Linked DNA regions of Homo sapiens. The protein of the gene in region 1 interacts with the protein of each later gene in a biochemical or structural test. Each region holds a gene or a part of one and is shown on either strand. Other genes may lie near its edges.

Region 1 (3,814 bases):
CACCAAGTCATTGATCTTGTCACGCCAGATAAAACTACGAAAGGAGAAGCGCTTGAGCTGCACGATGAGAACATTTGGCAGGCGCCATAGCAACAGCTGCTTGGAGGCCTCACGGTGCTGTTTGCACTGTGGGCAGTACCTGGTGGGGACAGAGATTGGGTCAGGACCAGCAAGTCTCTCTCTTCTCCATCCTGCCCCCTTATCTACTTGCTGCTCTGTTCTCACCAGGCCTCCTCGGGTGCCAGCACCTCAGGCCGTGTGAAGAGGTTGAGGCACTGGTCCAGGGTGAAGTGGCCGGCCCGGGCAGCCTCACCGGCAGAGCCTGGATCCTCAGCACATTCCAGCTCCTTGGAGGCTACCAACACAAACTCCTGCAAGCGCTCATTGTTCCGCCAGACGAGAGCCAGGCTACAGTCGTCACCCAGCTCCAGTGGGGTGTCTCCTGGAGATTCGCAGGGAGAGAGGTCATGCAGCTGTGGAGAACAGCCAGCTCAACCCACCCCATGGCTCCCACCCACAGCCTCAGACACCTTTGTCCTCTAGCCGCTGCTCTCGGTTGGATGAATCAATTTTATAGATGAAGAACTGGGGTGTGTGGGCATTCATAGCTTCACTTGGATGCTGGTACCCAGGCACAGCAGCTGTGTGAGAACATGATAATCAAAGCTTCCCTGCCCATCAGGGCCTCACCAGGCCCACCAGGCCCTAAACAACAGCCCCCTCCATCCTCCCTTATCCTCCTCCCCAGCTTCTAGAGCCTTTCACTGGATCTTACCTTCGGGTCGGGACACCCTCTCGCCAGCTGGCAAGGAGCCAACCTCAATGGGCCCACTGGCCAGCATCTCAGAAGAAATTCCACTGGTGCTGGGCACAGGACCCCGGTCAGGGGCTGCCCACACCCGGGGAAGCCCTGTGTCCCCCTCAGCCATAGGGGTCACCAGCTGGAGCTCAGGTGGCTGAATGGGGTCTCTCTCGCTGTCCCCAGCCTCCAGGGAACCTGTGGAGAGCAGTGTGGTGCAGCCAGGGCTCTGAGACTCCAAGGCCATGCGGCCTGGCTGAAAGGGTGGCTGGAATACACTCACAGAGTACCTGGCAACAGAGAACAACGCAAGTAAGACTCCTGACCAGCCCATCTAGCACCTCTGCCCCCACCTACACCACTCTAGTCCAACCACTGGGCACTTACCGGGCATAGCCCTCTAGCAACTGAGCGAGGCGGGCATAAGTGAGGCGTGAGGCAGGTACACTGACCAGGAAGGGGTAGCCAATGTTCTCAGGTCGGCAGAGGCCCTTGTGGTCAGGCCAGTGGGTTTTCTGGCAGAGCCTGACGGGAAGAGGAAGACAAGGATAGGCCCTTAGCCCCATCTCCTATGACTCCATACTGGGGGCTAGTCATAGTCCCTGGGAACTGGGTACGCCAGCCCTGCCTCCCCCAGAGCCTGGTAAAGTAGGGTGGCAAGTAGAAAGCTTAAGCATATGTGCCTTGGTGTGAAGGGAAGGAGCAGGGTGGCACATGGAAGGTGGAAAGAAAGGGTAGGGGAGACCATGGGGGTCCTCACTGGTTGCAGTAGCCCACACGGTAGCACCGGGTACAGCGCTTCAGCTTTTCATCCTCCGACTGTTGCTTCCGCTGGCAGGCTGCACACTTGGAGATGGGGACGCTGGGCACCTGGGGGCGCTAGGGTGGGTCGTCTGGCTCAGCAAGACCAGGAAGAAGTGCCCCACCCACCAGGGCGCTGTGCCATCAGGTTGGCCCCCACTCACCTGTTGCACCTCTAGCACCACTACCCGCTCCTTAGCCAACTCTGAGGATAGCAGCTCAAAGCAGAGGAGCGTATCAGATGGGGACACAGTGTCCAGTGAGTGGGAGGGTAGGAACACACGATGAAAACGATTCTTAATTACCTGGGGACAGAGAACACACAGATCCCACGTGAGGATAAGCCCTTTCCCTAGCCCTGCCCCAGAGTTTAAGAAGGCTTGGCCCTGCCTTGGGTCTATGTGGGCAGTGGTGAGGTCTGTAGGCCCAAATAGGCTTATGCCTCTGCTGGCACCTGTCTCAGTGCCCAATGCCATAAGGAGCCTGGTGCATCAGAGGGCCTGAAAGACCAGGTGTGAGGCAGATATCAACCACACCAGCTCTCCACACTGAGGGACTCTGCCCTGCTATAACTAGCATAGCCTTATAAGACTGTAACATATTATCATGGAGGGTCCACATTCAAAGAGCCTCCTCCCCACTCTTACCCCTAAGAAAACCAACACTGTCAGGCTAAAGGCTAGGAACCCCTGGGGAGAGCTAGCACACACAACTGGGATAAAAGGAGAGAGCAGCAGGATAGAGGGAGAGGCAGAGCGAACATAGGGATAGTCCTGCAGCTCAAGCTCCTTGTCTAAAAAGGGAAATGCAGTTGGGATCCACCACCACAAAGGGGAATAAACCCTGATAATGGCTAGGAACTGAGGGCACTTCTGTTGCACAGAAAAAATAACAGCACATCGCCTGTTTTTGTACAGTCACAGGCATACTCATGTGTATGTCTATTTTTATTTTATTTTATTTTATTTTTGAGACAGAGTCTCACTCTGTCACCCAGGCTGGAGTGCAGTGGCGCGATCTCGGCTCACTGCAACCTCTGCCTCCCAGGTTCAAGCGATTCTCCTGCCTCAGCCTCCTGAGCAGCTGGGACTACAGACATGTGCCACCACGCCCGGCTAACTTTTCCTGTATTTTTAGTAGAGGTGGGGTTTCACCATGTAAGCCAGGGTGGTCTGGATCTCCTGACCTTGTGATCCATCAGCCTTGGCCTCCCAAAGAGCTGGGATTACAGGCATGAGCCACCACGCCTGGCCCTATTTTTATTTTTTTATCTATTTATTTATTTATTTTTGAGACAGAGTCTCACTCTGTCACCCAGGCTGGAGTGCTGTGGTGCAATCTCTGCTCACTGCAACCTCCACATCCCGGGCTCAAGTGAGCCTCTTGCCTCAGCCTCCCAAGTAGCTGGGACTATAACACGTACCACCATGCCCAGCTAATTTTATTTCTTGTAGAGACAGTGTTTCACCAAGTTGCCCAGGCTGGTCCCAAACTCCTGGGCTCAAGTGATCTGCCCACCTCGGCCTCACAAAGTGCTGGGACTACAGGCATGAGCCACTGTGCCCAGCCCATGTGTATGTCTGTAGATGCCAATGACTGTACACACGTCTGTGGTGAGTACACACACACATCCACACATGTGATAGCCCAAGGAAGGACAAAGATACCTCCGCCAAACGCAGGTTCTCAGGCTTCACATGAACACTCTGAGAGAGGGAGTCCAATACTTCGCTCGCAGTGGAGTTCTCCTTGCTGACGCTCACCAGGAACTGTGGCAAAAAGGGCAGTCAGTGAGGGAGGTGGGCCACGTTCTCTAGAACAGCCCAGAGGGTAGGGGCTTACTCCTCACCTTGATGGGCTTGCTGTGGGGCTCTCGGGCAAAATAAAAGACAGGGAGAACCTTTTGCTTTTGTGGCAAGGGCACCGGCAGATAAAGAAACGGGTCAAAAGTGATGGAGACCTGTGGATGTAGAGGTGGCACTGGGTAGCTGCACACAGAGTGGGAGATAAGATGCTCATGCTCAGAGAGCCCATTCCGGGGCTTCTGATGGCTCTCAGGGCCCCCACAGCCAACCAGCAAACTCTCAGGCTTCAGGACACTAGACAGGGCAGGAGGACCACCAGGAAATAACAATCCTTCTTTCTGGCACTCAAAGCCCTACTCAGCTTAGCCACTTTACGAATTGGCCTCACACTTGCACCCCATGTGCCCAC
Region 2 (3,473 bases), on another chromosome or scaffold:
TGAGGCTCCAGCTGAGACCTGAAGGGTGAGAAGAAGCTGGCTATGTGAAGTCGATGTGAAGACATGGAGGAAGAGTGCACCAGGCAGAAGGAATTAGGACTGCAAAGTGCTGGTGGAGGGAAGGAGAAAAAGAAAGGCCAGCGTGGCTGGAGACTGCTTAGCAAGGGGATAGTTAACTAGAAGAATCTTAGTCATTAGCCTTCTTGAGATACAGAAAGCACATGTGCATATTGCAAAAAGGTCTGTACTCAAAGGCAACCGTTGCCTTTAGGAGTGGGAGGACCAAACCCAGTGAGGTTTGCTGTCTTTTTTCAGAGTAGTATCCTAGTATCCTGCCTTTCTCCCCACCCTGTGCAGAGAAACCACAGGAATTTGTGACTTCATTCTTCAAGACCAAGGATTCTACGGCTCTACAATTAGGGCCTCATGTGGTGTGCTGTGGTAACGCCACCGTGAAACAGAAGCTGGAGCTGAAAGAAAATAGAGATTTTGGAGTTGAAAGATGGAATTAGCATCCTAGCTGTAGCCATTTATTATTTATGTGAGCTTGAGGGGGTCATTTCACATTTCCCGGCTTTGTTTCCTGAAGGTCCTGGAAAAGACACATGCACAATTATAAGTGAACATTTATTTATTTTTAAATTTCTCTCTAGGCAAACAATGGAATGTATTGGTGGTTTGCTGGTGAACCGTTTATAGAGAATTCAACTCCATCCATGGCTGGAAGAGGGTCTGCTGCCTTCCGCAGAGGTGGTCTGGTTCTCCCCACAAATGCCCCGACAGCTGAAGTGATGCTGAGATGCACTTCTTCAGGCAGGAGGATTTGCTCCATGTAGCTTTTCCTATACACAGGGAGGGCGTTTACAGCTCTGCTTCATAGCAGCGGATGCTGCAGGGGTATGAGGGGCTGACCCTTGCTGGGACAACTGAGCACAGATGAATGTGTCACTGAGAAGGAATTCCATAACACATGTGACTTTCAAAGTTTTTATTGAGTCCAAATGGACTGCAGATACAGTGAGGATGCTGCTGCCTTTTGTGCCAATGAATTCAGGCTCCAAGATCCCCAGGACACCCCCATTCTGTCTCCATCTCTTGCATCTGCTTTCCTTTGCAGGTTGACCTCATTTTCCTAATCCCATTGCCCCCATGAAGCTGGAACCATGGCCAGAGGTAGCCTTGGGAAGAGAAAATCTCATCTCTAACCTTTGAGTGGAAAATGCTAAGGAATGGTTCTGAATGGCTCAGCTGGACCCCATGCCTCTCCTTGGTCTAATCATGGGAGCCAAAGGGATGGGTCACTTACAGCCAGCTTGGGGCATTTGCCCCGTTGCTGTGGCCAATGCCCTTAACAGAAGGGCAGAAAAGATCATGGGGTCAGCAAAGAGAGCAGCCTCCTCAAAGCTCAGAGGAGTGTAGGCACAGGTGCCACAGAGCAGCACGAGACCATCCTTGTGCTCTACAACCTAGTACAATTGAGTTGGGGAAGGTGTTGATTGATACTCATATGAAGACATTACGAAGTAAACCCTGAATGTGTCTGGTGGAATTCAATGGAAGGAGAGAGAACATCAGAGATTGATGTGTTCAGAGACGTGAAGCCACGGGGCAGGAGGAAGCCCTGGGCCAGTGGTGAGAAATCGGGCTGGATAGCAGCTATACAGGGGGGCCTGGAAGCCACAGGGGGAAGAAGAGTAGATTCTACACCACTATAGGTTCCTTATACATGAGGAGAGACAGCCAGGTAAGGAGTATGCTGGGGAGAGGGGGAAGAGCCTCAGCAGCAAGTGAAGGTGGCACCACTCCCTCCATCACCGCCCATGGGTTCCCAGTAGCCTGGAGAAGGCCATGAATTTCAGCGTTCCCTGTGTGACTCACCAATAGGATGCGGGCCTCACCATTTTGCCTGTCTCTGCCTGGGTTTCACTCACTTTATACCAGTGGGGCTCTCAAATTGCGGTGTGCATAAGACTTACAGAGGGAACATGGGTAAAACACTGGCACTGGGGACCGTCCCAGGGTGGGCGGGATAGTTCAGTGGGTCTAGAGAGGACCTGACAGTCTGCATTTTATTTTTATTATTATTATTTTTTTGAGATGGAGTTACGCTCTTGTTGCCCAGGCTGGAGTCAATGGCGCCATCTCGGCTCACCGCAACCTCCGCCTCCTGGGTTCAAGCCTTGGCCACCCAAGTAGCTGGGATTACAGGTATGCGCCACTACGCCCAGCTAATTATGTATTTTTAGTAGAGACCAGGTTTCTCCATGTTGATCAGGCTGGTCTCGAACCCCCGATCTCAGTTGATCTGCCCGCCTCAGCCTCCCAAAGTGCTGGGATTACAAGCATGAGCCACCGCGCCAGCCAGTCTGCATTTTTCTTTTTTTTTTTTTTTTGAGACGGAGTCTTGCTCTGTCACCCAGGCTGGAGTGCAGTGGCACAATCTCAGCTCACTGCAAGCTCTGCCTCCCAGGTTCAGGTCATTCTCCTGCCTCAGCCTCCCGAGTAGCTGCCCGCCACCACGGCCGGCTAATTTTTTGTATTTTTAGTAGAGACAGGGTTTCACCGTGTTAGCCAGGATGGTCTCAACAGTCTGCATTTTTAATAGGCTGCCCCAGGTGATTCTGATATAGCTGGTGCAACTTGCTTTGCTGAGTGGTGCAACAGACTTTGAGAAAAGTTGCACAGGGTAATGTCAGAGAGGAAGGAGGAAGAGATTTGTGGCTGTTGCTATTTGTTAGAAACTGACTTCTGATTGTCTGCAGTAGACCCTGCAAAGCTCTGAGCTGGGTAGGAATAGGGGCCACAGGAGCAGCATGAAGCACAAGCTGTAGCACCTACCAGCCCCTGGGTTGGGGACGACATGGGATGATGCTCATATGAACAAACTGTGAAGTCATCTCTCTCTGGGTGGGGTGGAATTCCATAGAAGGAGACAGTACAGAGAGCATATCCCCAGTCTAACTTGGGGATGTGGATTCCCAATGAGCCGAGCAGTCATTTTAATTTAATGAGCAAATGAAAACAGTGGGCAAAAGAAAAAATAAATGTTTCCAGGACTGCGGATGGGTGGGAAAGAAATGACTGGAAAGGGGAGAGTCAAAAATCAGGGAAACAGATGAAGTGAGGGGTAGGAAAGAAAAAGAGAGCAAGAGGAAGATTCTTTTTGAAAGGCCACTTTATTGATGGAGATAAAACTGAATGGAGTTCCCCACAGCCCTCCCCTCACTCATGTTAGTGGCTTCACTGGGCATCTGAGACCAGCGTGGCCTGTCACCCACATAGACTAGGCTGCTTAGCCCACCCAGCCTATCACACTGCCCGCTCCACGTTGGGCAGCCACATAAAAACACGTCACAGCTCAAGAAGATCCGTGGATGCACCTCTGAATCCCCCCCAATGGTTTCTGTGCATTTTTTTAATATTGTACAAAATATGTTAACTAGGAAAAATTAGCTGTACTGTGACAAGTGCGG

The links.
Region 2: the proteins of USP19 (region 1) and WWC1 interact in a test that uses a peptide from one of them, tested with the Homo sapiens proteins (one large-scale study listed by IntAct).

The regions. Positions count from the first base shown.
Region 1 is NC_000003.12:49,110,725-49,114,538, forward strand, and holds part of USP19 (ubiquitin carboxyl-terminal hydrolase 19), read right to left. Parts: intron 3,561-3,814; coding exon 3,450-3,560; intron 3,370-3,449; coding exon 3,268-3,369; intron 1,906-3,267; coding exon 1,765-1,905; intron 1,679-1,764; coding exon 1,560-1,678; intron 1,325-1,559; coding exon 1,187-1,324; intron 1,090-1,186; coding exon 776-1,089; intron 642-775; coding exon 531-641; intron 443-530; coding exon 226-442; intron 140-225; coding exon 1-139. UniProt on the Homo sapiens protein: Deubiquitinating enzyme that regulates the degradation of various proteins by removing ubiquitin moieties, thereby preventing their proteasomal degradation. Stabilizes RNF123, which promotes CDKN1B degradation and contributes to cell proliferation.
Region 2 is NC_000005.10:168,469,444-168,472,916, reverse strand, and holds the end of WWC1 (protein KIBRA), read right to left. Parts: 3' UTR 614-3,473; downstream 1-613. UniProt on the Homo sapiens protein: Regulator of the Hippo signaling pathway, also known as the Salvador-Warts-Hippo (SWH) pathway.